Regions from separate parts of the Homo sapiens genome. Here region 2 is linked to region 1. The links come from fine-mapping of genetic effects on gene expression. Tissue or cell type: aorta. Region 1 holds a variant in brackets; the other region holds the start of a gene. All regions are shown on one strand. Distances are between the middles of the regions.

What was found. PIP is the estimated chance that this variant, and not a neighbour inherited with it, causes the effect.
Region 2: ASTN2 starts here. The variant in region 1 is fine-mapped to the expression of ASTN2 in aorta (GTEx, PIP above 0.99).

Annotation. Positions count from the first base shown.
Region 1 is chr9:117,284,538-117,294,841 of GRCh38, forward strand. It overlaps ASTN2 (astrotactin 2), which reads right to left. Exons shown (of 23, transcript NM_001365068.1): 2 at 6,789-6,976. Among named protein-coding and RNA genes, the nearest start is that of SNORA70C, 110 kb to the left of the region's middle. The variant C/A (reference allele first, on the strand shown) is at 5,334.
Region 2 is chr9:117,409,782-117,420,085 of GRCh38, forward strand. It overlaps ASTN2 (astrotactin 2), which reads right to left and starts at 5,276. Exons shown (of 23, transcript NM_001365068.1): 1 at 4,716-5,276. The coding sequence starts at 5,157.

The DNA.
Region 1 (10,304 bases):
GATCTTTCCCTGGTGCCTTCAGAAGGTGCATGGTCTCACAGATATCTTGATTTTAAACTTCCGGCCTCCAGGATTGTGAGATAATAAATGTCTGTCTTTTAAGCCACTCAGTTTGTGGTACTTTGTTATTGCAAACTAGGAAGCTAATGCACTTATAAGTAGCAGAGTAATGACATTTATAGAACCAGGGCTGTGTGTCAGGCTCCAGCATATGTGCTTTATATCTATCATCTCTGATGATTCTCACAACAGCCCCTCTTTAGACAGGTAATTCCATCAGAGAAAGTACATGCTCAAATCCCACTACTACCAAGTCAGTTATGGAGCCAGAATGTGAACCTCAGAACACACAGAGTCACAGGTCTTACAAGTTAGTTATACTTCCTGTGCTTATTTTCTCAACAGTAGAGCAGGAGTAATAATATCTATTGAGATTACTGTAAGAATTTAATGAGTTAAATACATGTCAAGTACAATCACACTAAGCACTGTAAAAGTGCTTGTTAGCATTATTAAGATTCTTCAATGTCTTGATTACTCAGTTATTATTTCTACTCAGTTACTGTTTCTCTTAAGATATGGCCCCAAAAATAAACACAATATTTCAGTTCTCGCCCAGTACCTCTAGAATTATTTGTTCAGAAACCTAGCCTTTTATTAATTCAACTTAAAATATAAGACCACTTTCAGCAATGAGACCCCATAGTTGGCTCAATCTGAGCTGGTGGCTGATTTTGTAAAAAGCTTTTTTTTTTTTTTTTCTATCTCTTTTTTTTCTAGCAGATAGGCTTTTCATTGCTAGATTTAATAGGCAGGTAAACCATTCCATGATTGAATGATTAAATCAATGAATGAAGGAATATGCTATGAATGAAAAAACGTCACGGTTGGAGCAATGATATAAAGCCATCTTTTACAGAAACCTTTAAAAAGTGTTATCCCAATATCACACCGATCCTCTAAACAAAGCTACTGAATAAGAATGGTAGTAATAATTTCTTAGATTTGTGTGACATTTTATATTCCTCAAAGTATTATTCTATGTTATTATATCACAGAGTCATAGATCATCTAAATTGGAGGCAACTACAATAGTCATCTAATTTAACTATTATTCCTCTCTAAACCCCAGTGACTTTGCCTGCACAAACTCAGGGAGAAGAAACCCACAACTTCTTGATTCGGCCTACTCCACCGATGGATAGCTCAGACACTTTGAAGTGTTTGTCCTGTCGTGCATGAGAATTTTGACCTCTTGGAATCCTGAATCCTCCCTCATTGGAGGCCAGCAATACAAATCCGTGGCATTTTCTTTGGGATGATCCTTCTGAGAGAAACATGCCCTCAAAATTCTTTTCTTCTCCTACATCAAACCAAACATTTCTTTTCATCCCCTTTCTCAAAACATTTTGTCACCACAAAGACAAAAGGGAAAAAACAAAAGCGCCAAGATAAAACATATTGGTCTCAAACAGTTTCTATCTAGTAACTCTTGTGGAAATCTTTAAAACAAGACACATCACATTAAAATGAAATTATATTTCTCACTGTTAAAAAGGGGGAGAGGAGGAAAGAGTAGAATTATATGACCAACCCTCTGAACCACAAGTGATAACTATTTTTGTTGAAAGCAACTTTGATCTATGCAAAAGTGAAATATATATTGAAATGCCAATGTGACAATGGCAATGGCAACAAAAAGCAAAATGAAAAAAACAAATAAATGCAAAAAAGAAACAAGAAGTTGTGATCACATCTGCTAGGACCTATTGCATTTCCTCATGCCTGCGTGAAGCAGATAAACTCTTCCCACTTTCTTTTTTTTTTTTTTTTGAGCAGAGTCTCACTCTGTTGCCCAGGCTGGAGTCCAGTGGCGTGATCCTGGCTCACTGCAAGCTCCGCCTCCTGCCTGCAAGCAGGCAGATCACGAGGTCCGGAGATCAAGACAATCCTGGCTTCCCACTTTCTAAATAAGGATACCAACACTAAAAGAACCTCTTTCTTTATCCTGCAAGTTTGCATATGTAGATCACAAACTTAGCTGGCAAATAGTTAGGGGCCCATAATAGCTTGTTCTGATAAACAATGTAAAGTGCACCCCAGGATTCAAGCCATGGTTTTCCTCTGACTTTGCACCTGTAGTCAAATCACTCAGCCTGCTTTGGATTTCTTTTCTCCTATCTATAAAATGCTGGCATGAGCAACTCCTCTCCCTAACTGACAAGTTTCCAATTTCTATCAAATGTTTTGTGCACCTGGAGTGAATACTCTATAAAATAACAGACATGATAACCCTCACTATAGCTAACATTTTAATAACGGCTACTGCTTTTTGAGCACTTACAGAATGTCAGGCACTGTGCCATGCAGAACTGTGCCCAAGCACACAGACTCTCAGTTTGGACAGACCAGAGTTAGAATCTCAACTTCAGCACTTATTGGTGATGTGGATGGGCAAGATGCAAAAATCCCACTAACTCCTAAGCCCTCATCTGTAAATGAAGGGCAACAACATTACTTATCATATAGAGGCATTGGAACAATTAGATGAAATAATAGAGGTGCTGCACTTAGTGCCTGGCATACAGAAAGTTCTCAGTGGTGGCAGTCATTATTTTCATTGTGCAGGGCATTTGTGAGTGTGATCTCATTCCGTGCCTAGAAAAAAAATCTCTAAGTATTGGGGAATATTATTCCAGTTTTACAAATGATGAAGGTAACTTGGCCAAGGACACAAAGGTAGTGATAGAGACATTATTCAACCATGGAGTTGATTTCCAAGTCATAAACCCTCATAAAATACCCATGGATTCCACATAGGGTACAGTCTTCGTAAGAATTCACTCATGAAATCTTATCAATTTAAATCAACAACGGATGCATAGAGAAGGAAAATGGTGGCCTGTTATATAGATTAAGGGCATAGTTTCTGAAACCAGCTTATATAGAGTGAAAAATTGGGTTTGCCACTTAACCTTTGTGTGATCAATGTCACGTAGATAGGTATTTATTAACATTTCAGATTCCTCATGTGAGGGACAGTATCCATCTTAAGGTTTGTTGTGAGGATTGAAAGTGATAATATGCAGAGAACAAAATTTGGAACACTGCCTGGCATACAGTAAATACTCAAAATAAATGTCAGGTATTATGATTATTTCTCTAGATCAGGCAGCAAAATAGCAGCAAATATAAGACTAAAGCCAATGTCTTTTTACTCCTAAGTTGAAGTCCTTTAAACATTGCTTCAATGACAATATTAATAGCCATTTGTGACTATGCACTCAGTATGTGCCAGCCTGGGTATTAGGCACCATTGTATGTTTTTTCCACTCTTTTCTCCACTCTTTTCAATAATTTTTCTCCACTCTTTTCAATAATTCTGTGAGATTGGTATGATCAGTTTTGTTTCATACATAAGGAAACTGAGGCTCAGAGGCATGAAGGGATGTGCCTAACGTAAAATTACCAGGAAGCAGGAAGTAGAAGAGACTATATTCAGAGCCAGGTCTGCTGAATTCCATCGCTCTGCTTTTTTTCTCTGCATCCTGCCACCTGCACAGCTGAGGAGGGTATGCTGAAGCTGAGGCAGAGGACAAGAGGAGATGACTGTTTACTCTCACTTTCTGGACTAGGTTCAGAGTACTTCCTTGCTGCATCACCTTTTGTGATATTAATATTCAGATGATGCAACCTTTGGGACAAGGTAGATGCTCGACTCTAGCCTTCACAAGCCTACAAAGCATGATGGCTCCACCCCAGGAGGCATGGATGGTAGCAGGTTCCAGTGGCTGAATGGGAGCTGGTTTCCCTGCATGGGTGAGCAGGATATCTGTGCTGTCAAAAGGGGATGGAGTGCATAGACCCTAGCCTCCAGACTTCTTTGAGATTTGACTAGAAGATTTGGGTCTTCTCACAAACCACCTTGGATCTTCACCAAAGATGAAAACAATAGTGTATCCAGCAGGGTCAGGGCCATGATGTCATGAATTGCCAGACACAAGTTTTAATCCTGGGGAAATCCTGGCCCCAGAACTGCCTTTTTGTTAGCCCAGGAGACTTAGACAAATCAATTAAACTCATGAATCTCAGATTTCTCAGTTGTGAAATGGGGAGACAGATCCCAGCCATCTTAAATGTAAACACTCTTTTTGTTCTTGCTGCATTGTCTGTGGCCAGAATGACAAGGGTAGAGTCTGAGCCACAGAGAGGCCTGACCTCCAGGCCAAGCCCTGCTGACTGACTGAGGGATCTTAGACAAGTCCTAGCCTGTCCCAGACCTCAGTATCCAACTATGGAATAAAAGGGTATAATAAATCAGCACATCTCAAGTTTTTCAACTAAACTGCCCCTATTAACAAAAGCAAATACCCTTAAGTGCCAAGCTCCTCTGATCTGAGGACTTGTTGTGTCTACATAACTATTAGTATAATCCTTGTTCTATAAATGACAAAAACAAGACAAAGGGCTCATACCCGAGTTCAGTGTCAGAGAGAGACCTCAAGTCTGTGCTCCAAGTCTGTGCTTATGGCTGTCTTCCTACCTCTAGAGAGAGCAGTGTTATTGGCATGCCCCACCTCTCAGAGGAAGAACACCCTGGGGTTCAGTGTCTCCAAGACATGACTCTGTTCCCTGAGGGGAGGGCAGGGACAGGAGAGATCCAGATTATGGAGCCCTGAATGGGGGAAGGAACTTTGGACCACACGGTGGTAGCCTTGGGTCACTTTGGCTCATGGGTGGGGAGGGTCTGAAGGGTGCCAGCTTCCACGTTACCTACTCTGCCAGCCAAATCTGGAACTACAGGGAATTTCAGTGACATCTGGGTCTTAGTGAGTTATTATTTCGAAGCTGAACTCACTGAGCAAAAGGGAAAGTTGAGGAAAACCTACCATCCTGGGGAGAAAGTCTGATTCAGTGAAACTAACACTGGACCTGGAAGCAAAAAAGACACATTGGAGGCTCATTTATAATTGAGATAATACTATCCAGGTTACTGGGTTACAAGAAGGATACATGCAAGTAAATGTGCTGAAACACAGAAAATGTTTAATGAACATTGGTCAAAATTGAGTCTCACTCTCAAATGTTAAAGGAAGAAGAGCATTCACACCCCTCCGCCTCTTCCTAACATTAGATGGTGTCCCACACCCCATGAGGAACTCAGCAAGTGCCCTGAGATGGTGCTTATAAATTTGCACCCCAAACTTAGCATGCAGGCACCCACTTGCTTGGTGTGAGGCTGCATCATTTGCTAAATATACATATGGAAAAAGTCTATCACACTCATTCCATGAATAACACAAAGGCCTTGATTTGTTCCTCCACGTGATGAG[C/A]ATGCGTAAGGTCCAAAATTAACATTGCTGTCTGGCTGGGGAGTGTATGTGTTTTTCCAAAAAGAGAAAACTTCTAAGATCTTACTCAGCCCTAATCAGAATGTCTAATGCACAGTGTTCGTTGAAGAGAAACGAGAAAGAGACTAAAACTAAAGGTCGCTCCGTTGTGGAGTCTCAAAAAATACTGCTGATTGTTAAATTGAAGGAAGCAATGAGGGTTGAGAGGTAGCTCTGCTCTGCTGAGTGGCTTTATGCCAATCACTTCACCCCTCTGGGCCATAGCCTCCTCATATGTATGTTGGAGATACCATTTCCTAACCTTGGGTATCTGGCAGAGCCGTACTAAAGAAGAAAAGGAGAAGTGAATGTAAGAGGGGCTTTGAGGAATATAAAGCATCAGAAAGATGTGAAGTTTCTTCCTGAGCCCATTAGACTCTGTGCTTTCTACCTACTGGATTTATTTTCTGGTTTTGTTTTTCTATCTACCATGCAATGCCAATAAATATAGCTTTTTAAAGAAAGCATATAATATAAGCCCAGATACTTTTAGACTACCACTCAAGTGATTCCAGCCCTAGTAACCTTCTGGGTGGAGGCAGCAGACTCAGAGTTCTGTATCATGGGGCCAACAGAGCTGAACAGCCACATCCTCTCTCTGCAAACATGTGGAGGTGATTCGCTGGACCTCATCCATTCTTGGCAAGAGCACAATGAGATAATTTCCATACATGTATCCAGTATAGTGCTTAACAAATGGTAGATACTCAAGAAATTCTTGAATTGAGAGAAAACAGGGTGTACAGGACATAGTTCAGGCTTAGTAGCCAGATATGCTTGGATTTGAACACTCAAGAGTAGTTCCATCATTCGCTGGCTATGTGATCTTAGGTAAGTTTCTTTGCCCCTCAGCCACAGTATTCACAACTATAAAGAGAATTATGGAGGGGCTTCTGTGGACCCCCACAATGGCTACGTCCAGCCCAGCTACAAGGGCCACCATGCAGTTGTTGCAAGGGTTAAAACACCTGACACATCAAGGGTACTTAGGAAAAGGCAGCCTGTTCTGGTTTTATTCCAATTTTGTTTGTTCAGTCATTCTTGGAATGGCCAGTTGTATTCTGAATCACCAAACCTCAGCCCTCAGCAAAGCAGGCCAAGCACATGACAGATGTTAAACAGCTATTCCCAGAGATGTCAGCCAAAAGGCCGAGGAGTTGGAGACCCTTTATTTTCTTCTCTGAAGCACAATTAGTTTGTCACAGCTGACAGATGATGGATGGGTATGCATCAGTCCAAGTGACATCACAGAATCCATCTGATTTTCTGTTTCTCATTCTAACCTCTTGAGTTTGGTTCTTTCCTTCCATCTGTGGACAATCCCCCGCCCCCTCCATCTCTCCACCCATTCCTCCCCCACGCAATCCCCGACCCCGGTCACATCCCCCCATCACTCACCATCACAGAAATGTGGAGGATGTGCATCTGCTCCTCAACAATCTCCGAGGGCTCCTGGAGAGTGGGGGCGGTGGCTTGGGCCAGCTGCCCGGAGCTGCTCATGGAGACGTGGAAGTACAAGGTGCCATTCTCCAGCCACTGCTGTCTCCAGTGCACCAGCGAGATGTCCGCTGCTGTGCCAGACATCTCTGCAAGACAAGACCCGAGGCACTGGGTGAGCCGTACGCCTGGCCTTGGTGCTCCAGGGAGGAAAAGAGCCCACATAATCAGGAGCTCAGAAGGCATCCATTTTTTGCCAGGATACCTTTCCTCACATCAAGTCTATGAGATAGGGATCATCACTTTCATTTATAGATGAGTCAACTGTGACCAAGATTCACCTAAAGTAACAGAGTAGTGGAAGCAGGGTTTGCACCCACATCTGTCTGAGGCCGTTTTTAGTACATCACATGTGATCAGGTAATTCATTCTACTCTGATAGTGGAATGAAACTAAGGATAAAAGTGCTTTCATTCTTTTGTGGCTATGGAACTAGAAGAAGATGAAGGAAAGAAATCCATGAAAGGAGTGGGAGTTGAGAGTGTGGATTCTTTAGAAGTTGAGCTGGAAGTACTCATGGCCAAACCTCGGAGCCAGAAAGGCCCAAGAGAGCACCAACTCAGCTGAGGTAGCTCAGGGTCATCTTGCATGGGAAAGGAGCTTGCCAAGAGGGTTGCCCTGAGCGTGTTCCTCTTGCTTCCACAAGAGCAGCTCCATTTTTTGTAAGGTATATACTGCACTCCCAAGCAAGGAAATGTTGGCATAAAGTTTCCTTGGCTTAAAAATACTGGCAAAGCTACTGCCCCATCCCAACGTTCTCATATAGCCAGTGAGGAGTGAGGACTTTCTAGTAAATTGTAAAATTCAATCTCCCAACTTGAAGTTTCTAACTCTTATCTCTATGCTGGTTTTCCTTCTGTAAATACTTTTAAAGTGATTATCATTTGAATAGTATTTTTGTTCAATGTATCATACCTTTTTATTAGTAAAAAAGGGTCATGGCATAAGATGATGAAAGTGTCATTGCAAGGGGATTGTACAATTGTTCCAAAGTCCCCTTGACTAAAGGTGTATGTGCCTGCAAATGTCCTAGAAAGACAAGGCCTATCAGTGAATCTTATGCATGAATACAAGAGAAGGGTGGTGGATTTCTTGGAGGATTATTAGGTCTGCATTCAAGGGAGACAAACAGGAGACAAATAGCCTTTATAATGTCCATCAGTAGACAAGTAGTCTTAGTGGTGCTAGAGGCTTAGAACCTTGACCCCTCCCTCCTGAGACAGCTATGACCTTGAGGCAGTATTCCTACAGTCTCCAAAGACCTCGAGTGCATTCACACACACACACAAACACACACACACGAGGAGAGCTGATAGGCAAGCTGAGTTACAGCAACTTATCCAATCAGCTCTCTCCATGTCCCACTGCAGCACCCATCATATCTGATGACACGGAATGAAAAAGAATCAACTTGAAAAGAAGAGGAGATGATACTACCAAATCACTTACTCATCACCCAATTCCACTGAACTATTCTTATATCATCAATGCCCAATAGACTCTCCCTCCTTGAGGTTCACAATCAAAAATCCTTAGGAGAAGAGTGTTTAGCACTTAATAAGGGCTAAAAAATGTTAGCTACGAATTTTTAAGTTAGATATTGATTTATCATCATCATCATCATTATTGATAGGAACAGGATCTAATTCATCCTTCAGCTGCTCTGAAAAAAAAGAAAAAAAACAACAAACAAACCATGAGCCATCCTTGACAGCTTGCTTTCTCTCCCACTCCTCATTCAGTTCATCAGAAAATCCTTCCAAAGTCATCCAACATTCAACCCTTTGCAGTCCCTCTACATCAGCCACATGGGACAAGGCGTCATGCTGTCTTGCCTGGCTTACTGCAAGGACTCCTTAACTTGACTCTCTTCTTCCACCCTTGTCCATTCTATTCTCAGCCAGGAGCCAGAGGAATCCTGCCAAGCAAAAGTCATCTCACATCACTAAGCCCTCCATTTACAGTCTTTGCATGGCCTCCTACTCATTCCAAGTAAAAGACAAAGTGGTGAGAACATAGTAAGTTATTAGGCCAAGCAAACACATGCTTGGGCTTCCCTTGCAGCTGGAAGAGTTGAACAGGCCTTGAGATAATCACGAAGGTTTGTCAGCACTTAGAGCACAGGCCCCAAAGGCCCTGAGAACCCATTGTCGTTCTGGGGAGGGGCTGATTGGGTGATCAATTTGAGTGGTAGGTCTCCTCTCAGCACCTTCTCTTCATCCCAGGCTGGGGTGATCTGCTGCCCCACTGACCCCCTCCCAGCCTTAGCACCCAAGGCCTTGGCAGTAGCTTCTCTGGCAGACAGCCAGCTGGGCCAAGGCAAGGTGAAGACATTATGGTAAATGGTCTGGCTCATTTTTCTCTCAGTGCATCAAAGCCTAAAACCAGAGGTCCAGGGAACCCAGGGCTGAAAGCTGCACTAGAAATAGCAGTGTCTAATTCAGTAGTTCCATGTGCTGCTGGCTAGGCAGGCACTCCACGTGCTGAGAGTCCCTGGAATGGCACCAGAAGAAAGCTCCAAGGTAGGCTACATCTGGTTGACACAGCCTGGCACAGTTGAAGGCGGAGCGAGCAGAGGGATGCTTGTGGAAATCTGAGCTCCTTGCTCCTAGCACTCTCTCCAGCCTGTGCCTGAAATCCCACTATTAAAGAGGCTTCCCCTTTCCATGTTCAGATGAGAAAGCAGAAGGTCTCAGAAGGTTAGTGACTTAAGTTCACTGGTGAATTTGTACCTAGCTAGAACCAGTGGATTTCCAGTCCATGCAATTTCTACTATGCCAGTTGCACTTACATCTCCTTTCTCTTGACTAAATTAGCCCATGAACCAAAACTAGATTGAGCTCTTTGTTTGCTACAGCGATGAGTGCACAATCAGCAGACAGTAAACGTTAAATGATAATAACAGTGTGTGAAACACAGTAAATATTGAATCACAGAGAATAACTCCGGACTTACTTTATTACAAAGAAAAGAAACTGTTGTTGAAGAGGAGAGAGGAGGGGTATGAAATGTTAAAGGGAAAAATGCTTTAGCAGAAGCAGAAGGCCTCGATCATTCATTCACTCATTATTCATTTATTCATGCATTTGTTTATTTATTCAACATACTTATCAAACACCTACTCAATCCCAGGCAGCTCAATAGCTCAGAACACGGAGTTAAATGAGACATAGCCTTGCCTTCAGGGAGCTCATAATCATTTAGCAGTGGAAATTCTACCCAGCCAAATGTCTCCTTGCCCATGTTACTGTCCATACACATACACACTCTCCATTGACCATGGTCCAGGCAACTGTGTGTTATCGGGACTATCTTCTACCATCACCCCTTCTTCACACACTCCATCCCTGCAGGACTTACAACTGTTTCTCAAACAAGGCAGACTCCCACTTGTCTCAGGCCATGAGTACTTTCTGC
Region 2 (10,304 bases), 130 kb after region 1:
CATTGTTGACATTTAAAGGAAGCTTCTCCAGCCCTCTGTGGCTAAACTCCCTTCTCCCAACCATTCTTCTGGCCAGGTTCCTGGCACCTCACTCCTTCAAGGAACATTTGCTGACCTGAACAAGTTGGCATTTCAAACCGTATCTTCCTCCTTCTTCCAGGCCATCAGCTTCTTGCATAAAGCAGCCTTTGGGATGGTCCTTTGGGACCCCGCCAGCTCTACGCATGCAGGTGTACTTAACACAGACTAATGAATAGCTTTTCTTTCTTCACACTCCCTCCCCCAAATACAGATCACACGCCTCTCCTGTCAGGTTGATATGGCAAAGCAAATTACTAAAAAATGTTGACAATGAGTGCTTATTCAATTTTATTGCTTTTTCCTGCTTTTGCTGAATCAAAGCAGGTAGTAAACAGTCTTGCCTGACCACTATCAAGCACAGCAAGAAGGATGACATTTCCCTACCTGTGGGCATGAAAGCTAAATCCACAAGCAGACCCCGGGGGCTGCCTGGAGGTAAGTGAGGACTGAATGACATACAGGTTCACCTTAGAAGCCCTGGGCTGGCAGTTGTTCCTGCTCAAATTCTTTCTTTTCTATCAGTCCTTCCCACCACCCTCATGTTACCAGTAAAGGAAAACAGACAGTACAAAGCAAGAGGAGCTATCAGAGTCATGGAGTAGGTCAGGGCACTTCAAGTTCATAGAATCTTTACACGAAAGGATTATTTTAGAGCTCATCTACCCACTCATATTGCAGCAGAAAGAATTGAAGCTCTGGGGGATAAATGACTTATTCAAGGTCACAGTGAGCCAAAGCTGAGATTTCCAGATCCTAACCAGCGTTAAATTTCTAAGCTGCATTTTAGCATTCCACTTTTCCTCATTTTGCCTATTAAATCCTCCAAGGCCTAGTTCAGGTTCTTTCTGGTCCAGAAAGTGCCCCCAGTCTTCTCCAATTCTACAGAGATGCCTTCCTTCCCTGATGCTACAGAATGTATCATCTCCATCACTCATTGGCACCAATAAATAAAATGCCCTTTGACATCCAAGAGTCATGAAACTTTGAGCTGGAAGGGTCATTGGATGTCATTTAACTCATATTTCAGTTTCAAACTTACATAGGTCAGCTCACCAAGGTAGCTGAAGTTCCTTTGGAGAAAAGCTCTTGTCTAACAATCTTGATGATTGTTATCCCTCTCTATTCAGCACCATAACCTGCATAAACTTCATATTTGGTTCAGAATACCAGTTTAGCAACCTACAAGAATGTAGGTGTCTGGCAGACCAGGATTCCAGTTCCAGGTCTGCCATTGATTCCTGGCATGACTTTGGATTACGCGTTTGACCTCTCTAAAAATACTTCCTCATCTGGCAAATGGGAGTAACAGTAGAGCCCACTCCATATATGTTATGTAAATTAATAATACAAGGCAGGAAGAAAGCTCTTAGCATCACATTAAGGATTCAATAACTATTTGCTATTCTTTGATCACTTTCAGGGAGATTCACTTTGTCAATGTCATTGACTTATAATCAGATTCTAAAGAAGAATCCCAGGCAAACAAACTTTGGAGATAGTTCACAACTGAAGGAAACTTCCATTTACTTAAGGCAGGCTGAAATTTGATAGGGAGACTAGAAATACAAAAAGGAAAGGATCTGCAAAAAAAAAAAAAAAAAAAAAAAAGACTTGCTTCCAGTCTGGGCATTACCAATAACAGAAACAAAAGAGGCAGAATGGAGGGAGCCAGGGTTAAATATGAAGGTGACCTTGGTGCACGCAGATGGGAGATAGTGCATGCAAAATTACCTTGAGGTCCCCCACTGGAGTTTGAATAAACTAAGAATTCTTCTTTTTGTTTGTCCCCCTTTAATACCAGGGATGGTTTACCACCACTAATTCTGGTCCCAGGACCCAAAGTGACCAGAGGGCTTTGGTGGACACCATCACCCCCTAGTGGTAGCTCCACACTCCCCACTATTGGCAGAGTTTGGCATTTACCAACTTTGCATGCTCAGCTGTGGCACTGGCCATGTCCGTATCCCCTGAACTGATAAGCTGATAGTGAAAGCTGCCCAACTCGCCAGAGACAAACGTTAGGCAGGATGTTTAAAAGTCTGGGGATGGGATGGGGCTGCCTTGGGACACTAGAAAGAGATGGCCATAAATGTCTCATAGTATCAGCCCCAACCCCACCCCTACCACCACCCCCACCTCACCCCTCCCCCCCCCAACCCCCAGCGGGCACCAACTCTCATTTCCGGCCAGCTAGGTCCTCCCAGAACTCATTGTGCACTCTGTGTTTACACACAAACAGTGGAAGACCAACACAAATAAAAATCCCACGTCTCCCTACACAGCTCCTGCTATACCCAGCCATCTGGTGACTACCTCGCTAGCCAAATCCCCGTTGAGAGCGCCTAAAGCTGCCAGCCCAGGGCGCTAGGGGGAAAAGGAGGAGGCAAGAACCCAATCCCCCGCATGCATCCAAAAGGCTCAGCGCTGCCAAGGAGGCCAGCCCCGTGCTCTCCAAGGGGCAGAGGGTCCCAAGCTGCCAGGCTCAGGGACCGTGCATCAGAGGAGGGGGAAGTCTCCATGTGCAGGTTGTTGCCAGGAGACTCTCAAGCAACACATGGGTCCTGGGGGAATCAAGACTTCTAATTCCTCGCTCAGGTCCTCACTCAGCTTGTCCCAGGCTCACAGGCACCCATCCTGTTTGAAAGCCAAAGTTAAAAATGGCAAAGATTGTCAGTTCCAGGAATCCCGGGGCACCTATACAGATGGTTGGAGCAGGTCCTCCATATCCTCGAAGACTTGAAATGCTCTGTGGTCCTCACTGCCAAGTCAGGCCATACCCAAGGACCGTCTCATCCCTTCACTTGAATGGCCGTTTGGGGGGCGGGAGGATTTCCACCCCTCATCTCTCAGAGTACCCCGGAGTAGAGAGATCTAAAGGATGAAGGGAGAAGGTCAGGAATGGAAGTGGTAGTGAAGGGATACCTTCTGTGTCTCTAGAAAGACCCTTCCCCACGGGGAGGTGGCAAGAGCCAGCTGTGAGCCTGAGGTTAGTCCGGCGGCGCTCTAAGGAACACCACCTCCACCCTCCTTCCCTTTCTCGGACATGGGCAGCCCCACAGGTGCACGTGGGAAGAGCTACTGGTTTGTGTGTGTCTGTGTGTGTGTGCTTGGTGCGTCGCACCCCAGAAGCGCCGCCGCGGGGAGTCCCCGAGGAACCTGCAGGACGCTCCGCTGCCTCTCCTCCCGGAACGCTCGGCACGCTCAGGTTACAGCCTGCGAGGGTGGGTACAGGGGCTCGACCCCCGAGGTTCAAGCTCAGAGCGGGAGAACCACTGGCACTCGCTCAAATCCCCAGAGGTGGTAGCATGAAAGGATGGGGAGTGGGTCACAAAAATACTTTTAACAATATCAGGGCTACCAGGAGAGTGGAGCGTAGTCCGCTGATTATTCTGTGGGTCTTTTCAGGCGAGCAAGGAGTTAACCTCGGAAGTTCAGGGATCGTAAAGGTTCTCACCTGGAAGGCCCCTCACCTGCGGTGCCCGAGGCGGATCCCGCCGAGGAAAAGACCCGGGGAAGAAGAGCTCCGGGTCTGGGCGAGCCCCTGGCGCCTCACGGGCGCTGTTGTTGGCCAGACTCCGACAACCAATAAGGCCCCGCGCCCCCAAGAGGGGAGGGGAGAGCGAGCAAGCAGCGAGCGCGGGAGAGCTAAGGGGAACAACATTTTTGTAAACGCTCTCCGAGATAATTAAGCTATCAATTACCCGGGTGGGAAATCAGCTGCGCTTCCCACAGCTCCACTGAAGGGCCGACTCCTCCGGGATTCGCGCAGGGAACCAGCAGGCAGCAAGCTGCTGGCGAACTTTTCTGATTAACTTTTCCGTTGGAGCCCCCCACCCACACCCATCTCCTCTCCTCTCCTTTTTCTTGCCTTTAAGTAATTATTATTAGCCCAGGGAGTGAGCTGCAAGGACAAACCGGCTCTCTGCCTGGAGGTGGGTAGAAAGGGAAGGCGGTAACGGGGGTAGAGGGAGGCTCTAAACGTGGAGACCTCGGAGTCGGAATCCCAGTTCTCAGCAACCACTCAAGTCTCTCCAGCCCTATTTCACAGATGGCCAGAACTGAGGCTCAGAGAAGGGAAGCGACTTGGCCAAGGTCACTCAGCCCATGCGGAAGCCACGCTTTTGCGGGTTGAGCGATTCCACACGGAACTACTCCATTCCTACTCTCATGAAAATCCATCTGGAAGGGCAGAACCCGCAACTCCGAGGCGAGAGCGAGGGGGCGGTGACGGCGGGTGGCCAGTGACGGTACCCGGAGAAGTGGGAGGCTCGACCTGAAACTGGCTTAGGATCTGGGATGCTCCGGCCCCTAGCCAGAGCACCTTCAGTGAATGGGGTCTCCGGCTTCCGGGATGGATCAAGCAGAGCTCCAGGTCGGGACTGAGAGGCAGAGGGGCAGGTTCCCACTGCGGGAGGGTTGGCACGCCCCCAGGCTCCCGCCGCGCGCTCTCCAGGACCTCCTCCCACATGCTCGTTTCCAACCACCTGTGCGACCTCTGGGCCCCTCCTCTACCCTCTGCCAACCCCACTCGGGGCAGCCCCGGGCAGGGATCCCCAGGGCGCCCCCACCCGTCCGGCATGACGCAGGGGCTCGGGGTTCCTTGGGATCTAGCGCGTGCCGGCGCCCAGCCTTACCCAGGGTGAAGAAGGGCAGCTCGGTGTTGTCCAGGTCGTCCTGCACCGCGATGCGCCCCGGCAGCTCGTTACGCACAAAGAGCAGGAGGCGCGACTCGGCGGCGGTGCCGGCAGAGCCAGGAGAGCCCGGGGACGCGGCGGCGGCGGCGGCTCCGGCCCCGGTCCCAGCCCCGGCCCCGGCGCGGGCGCCGCTCCAGCCGATGTCGCTCTCCCGCAGGGCGGGCAGTGTGGACACCGTGACGGTCTTCAGCCGGCACGGGCTGTCGGGCTCCCGCGAGGCAGCGGCGGTGGCGCCGGCCAGCAGCGGCGGCGGCGGCAGCAGGAGCAGGAACAGCAGCAGCAGCGGCAGCAGTGGCGGCGGCCCCGGGTGGAAGCAGAGCCTCGGCCGCCCCCGGAGCCCCGAGCCGGGGCCGGGGCTGAGCCGGGCGCCGGCGGCGGCCATGGCGGGAGGGGCTGCGGTGCTGCGGGCGGCGGCGGCGGTGGCGGCGGTGGCGAAGGAGGAAGAGGAGGCAGCTGCGGAGACGGCGGACGCCGAAGCGAACCAGGACGCCCGAGCTAAGGAGCGGAGAGAGCCGCTCGCCAGCAGCCCCCAGCTCCGGGCTCCGCCTCCCGATCGGCCCTGGACCGCCCCCCCGCGCCGCCTCCCGGGGCCCAGCCGCCCGTCCCCGATCTCCGGCTCCCCCCGCAGACCCCGAGCGTTTCGGAGGCTCCGCCCGGCCTCGTGCAAGTCCCAGTGGCTCCCTCCCCTTTCCCAAGATCCCCCAATTCCGCCCTCACAGCATTCTTTAGCCACAACACCCCTCCCTAAACTCCCCAAATTCCTAATACTTAGGGCCCCCTCGGGCCCCCCCAAGCCCCCCTGACTCAACCCAGTTCTCCTGGCTTCACCCCACCTTCGGCTCAACCCAGAGGCTGCACCTGGGGGCGCGCCTTGGCCCAGCCTTGCTCAAGGCCCCGCCTTCTTGGGGATAGGGAGCCCCCTGGATAGCCAAGACTTAACTTTGTCTCCCCTCAGGCCCAAGAACAAGTCCTTTCTCCAATCTCCTACCCTTTTCTAGTCTCTGAAATAACTTCCTGTAGCCTCAGAGCCCCCTTCCCACCCACTTGGCCACAACTCCTGCATTCATTCTCCCACTGCCCGCAAACCTTCCTCTCCCCTCCATCCAGGCCTTGTGCTAGCACTAATTGCTAATGGACAGAGGGGCGTCGAACTCCACCGTCTAACGCCGACCCCACAACTGACTGAAGCCGGGCTGTTCTGGCCCCCTAGCTGCCGCCCTGCAAGCCAGCCCACTCACGCTTTTTTATTTTGGATCCCTGCTCCCAGCTTGGAGCAGCTCTACTTGGCTGCTTCTGCTCTCTGTGTGAAATTCCTGAAAAGGGTGTGAGGTAGAGACCTACTATTCTGTCTGTCCTTGGCTCCCGGGTCTTTTAGATCCTCTGCCCAAGTCCCAGAGAACGGGAGTGCTCACCAATTCTTCACCTGCAGTCTTTCTAGACTCAAGTTGAGCTAGGTCCTCAGATTCAGCACCCTTTGGTCTTGGGCTGACTCTGTCTCTGACCCACATACCTGAGACCCTCCAGGGAGCGGACACCTCTGCATGGGTCAAGTGCCGTGCAGCCCCTTCCCCACTCCCCTACTTTTCTTCATCTTCCCTGTCTCTGTTTTCTGTTTCATCTCTCCATTCATTTCCTTCCTTCTCATCTTGACTTTAATCTTACAAATGCTTCTTTCCTATAATTTGTGAGCAACTTCTCATCTCTGTCTAGCTTACCCATCTGCACCTTTTGTGCTGTCTCTATGCATTCACTTTTCTCTTAGCTCTTCCCTCTTCTGTCTCATTCCCCTTTTCTATCTTTAACCCTTCATATAAATTGCTTTTCTCCTCTCTCATCATATATTTTTTAATAACGTTGGATAAAGGCAGAGCACTGAAAATAAGGAAAAAAGCAAAAGCTGTTTTGCGACCTTGGACTTAATGTGTTTAAAGCATTCTCCAAATGCTAGACATGTACGTATGTTAGCTTTTTTACATGACCATAATCCAAAAAGATGGATATTATGATTCCCATTTTCCATGTGAGGAAACTGAGATCAGGTGGTCAGGGAGGTGAAGGGATTTTCCAAGGTCGTATAGCAAATGAGCTGAAGAGCTGAGGTTTGAACAGTAGGCTTCAAGCCTTGACTGTTTCCCTTAAATTACACTGTCCTCAGTGACCTTGGAAAACCCCACCCATCAAAGATGCTGTAAAAGGTAAATCTGCATAAGCACAGTTGGATCTACTTCCCTGTGAGGTTTGTAAGGTATACTTCTCCTGTCTCAGTTTACTAATCTGTGAACCCAAAGGATGTGTGGAGGTTGGGGTGGAATCTGGCCTTTCAAGTCCTCTAATTCTAAATGGTCTCCTGCCTCTCTGATGCCTGCTCTAGTTCATTTACTCCTCCAAAATATGTCACCCTGCCTCCCTCAGTCTCTCCTTTGTGTCCTTACAATCCGCCACTATCCACCGCAATGGGGCTTTCTGATTCTCTATGCCCCTTTCTTCAAATATGCTGACATAGTCCATTTACAGAAGAGCACACCAGGAAAAAAGGGCTCCCTTATGTAAGGCAGAGTCTGTGCAAGTCCTTCATGGACCTCTAGTACAAAGGCCTGTCAAATGAGACCAACACTTTCATTCATTCATTCATTCATCACCAAATATTCAGGGTGCCTACCAGGTGCTATATGGAGATGCAGGGATGGATAAACACAACTCCTGCCTTTGGAAAGCTTATAATGATTGGGGTGAGGGGGTGGGATGCCGGAAAGAGACAGGCACATAAATATCTCAGGTAATGGGCAGGCAGGCAGACATGTGTTTCCTAAGATGAGGTACTTGGAGAAATCAAAGAAAGCTTCCCAGAGGCGGTGGCTTTGGAATTGAACCATAAAGATTAGTAACAAGGGAGTGGGCATTCTAGGTTAAAGTTGGCATTTGGCATTCTTTGCAACTGCTTAGTAAATGAATAAATCCCTTTCCTACATCAGAGAATGTTTTATCTTTTAAGGCACAGCCCACCTCCCATGAAGAAGCTAACATTTCTGGATACTTTCTCAGCCTCCACTGCAGCTAGAGCTTGGGCACATGACCCAGGCTTCACCAGTTAGATTCACCCACCCCAGATGCTGAAAAATAAGCCGGAATCAGGCAGAATCCAGTGGCGGCTAAAAGGGCAATAGTTGGGGCAGTTACATCCAGGTGTCTCTGCTAGTCGAAAAGGTTCTAATAGCACTGTTTGGAGCCCAGTGATATCAATGTCAACAGTGTGAAGTGCCTTTTATTTATGCTTGGCTGCAGCTGAAACATATCTTCACCCATACAGTTCTGTGCTATGATTTGGAGTGGTGCTCTTGACTTCATGCACTTTAAACCCAGATCCCATGCCTTTCTGGAGATTCTAAGGAATCTAATAATCACTTAACTGAATTCTGAATTCTCTTTCTGCTTAAATTATTCAGGATTGCTTTCTGTTGCTTGCAACTGAAACACCTGGCTGAGAACACAGAATGTGGAAACAAAGGGAGGGCAGAGACAGCAAGGTGTATGATGGGAAATGAAGCTCAGTGAGGGGGAGAGGGAGTAACTGAAGACAAGACAGAAAAGGCAGACAAGGAGTACCAACTTTATATCACAGACAGTGTCAAATCTGGAATGTCCACAGGAAATGACTTATACTTCTGAACACATGCTCTGTGATCCAAAACTTTTTGTAGCATATCAATGAATGATGATAACAACTGTTGCCTTATGGTGGTTGTGAGGCTTTAGAAATAATTATACAAAGCATTTAACACATAATAGCTGCTCAATAAATTATAACTACTGCTTTGATGTATAATCTCAGCAACATTTGGAGCAAGGCTTTTTATCCCTATTTTATAGGTATGAAATCGGAGGCTCAGGGAAGCTGAGAAACTTGATTTTGGTCATGGAGTTATCAAGTGGTGAAATACAAGAATGCCTGGCTCCCAAATCTTTGCTCTGTCTGTCACAGAATGCCCCTCCTGGCCTCAGCCCTTTGCATGCAACTTATTCCCAGTATACTATAACTTCCCTACTCATACTCGAGTCCCCTGTCCTATGACCACCACTTTTCTCCCTCTCAGCCCCTCACACTCCTTCTCCTTTCCCCTCTTTGTTCAGTTATATTTCATTATTGATTCAATTCTTTCTCTTTTACAGTCCCCTGTACTCCCATCTTTGACTCCACTGATACAAAATTTTTTTCATTCTAACTCCTTTCCAGTCTTTCTAGCAAATACTTCCTCTTCTTTCATCTTTCATATTTGCCTTTCTAGGTAGTTTTGAAATATTTTTTCTTTCCTGCTTCCCCCTTCTCCATACTCTACTCTGTTTTAAAAATCCCTTGTATTTATGCCACCTGACTGAGGCATCCTAATGTAGTTGAAAAAGCCAGAGGCCCAAGAGGCTGGTTGATTTTCGTTTAGAAATCATCTTTGCTATTTCTCTATGGAGTCAAGTCACTTTATAGTTCCTACTAGGTCTTTTCTTTTCTCATTTGTGAAATGGGGAAAGTAGTACCCACTTCTCAGGATCACTGTGTGAATTAAATGAGATGATGTGTATGAAACTGTCTAGCACATATGAGGCTCTCTTGAATGTTGTAAGTAAATCCAATCATCTTACGGATCTCACCCACTGTTTTCCACTCCAGCCTCATGTCCCATAATCCCCACCACCACCACTTGATTCCAACCATATTGATCTCTTTTCTGTTCCCGAAATACTTCAAGCTCTTGTTGCCCCAGCATCTTCAAACGGACTCTTTCTTCTGCCTGGAGAGACCTCCCTCCGTCTTCACTAGCTATCTTTTGCTAGTCTATAAGTTTTGCTAATCAAAGCACTTTCCCTAACGTGACCACCCACCCAGCCTAAGTTAGCCTCTTGCTGTACTTTCTGTTACATCCTTTCATATTTCTTTATAACCATTTTAATTGTACTCATTCCATATTTCAATAATTGTCCATTTATTAGAGCATTTTCTTGGTGCGTATGTTCCTTACTAGATTGGGAGCTGCCAGATATCAAAGACCAACTATGTCTTGCTTACCGCAGTGTGCACACCAGCTAGTACAGTAACCTACATAGGGTAGAGATGCAAAATAAGTATTTTGCCAATGAACCATCACATATTTATTGAATTTTTACTGAGACAGGCACTGTTTTCGCATTAGCTGCACTTTCACAGAGAATATAATTTAAATTTTACAACAAAAACCTTCCCCCATCCTCCGTCTGTCAATTCTTCCTTCCCTTCTTCCTTTCCTTTCCTTCTTTCCTTCCATCCTCCCTTCTCAGCTTCCCATGATTCAAGTAATTCTTTTTAACAGTCTTTCTTCTTAAGCCTCCAGATGATCTCTAGAACATAAATAAACTCTAATTGAGGAAAAGAGAGTGCCATCTTCTGCTCCATCTCTGCTCTATCTAAGCTCAATCTTCCATCAATCCTTTTCCTGTCCACGAATCTCCACCATTTGTTTTCTCTTGTTCAATCACTGCCTTCTCCGTAACTCATATTGTCCT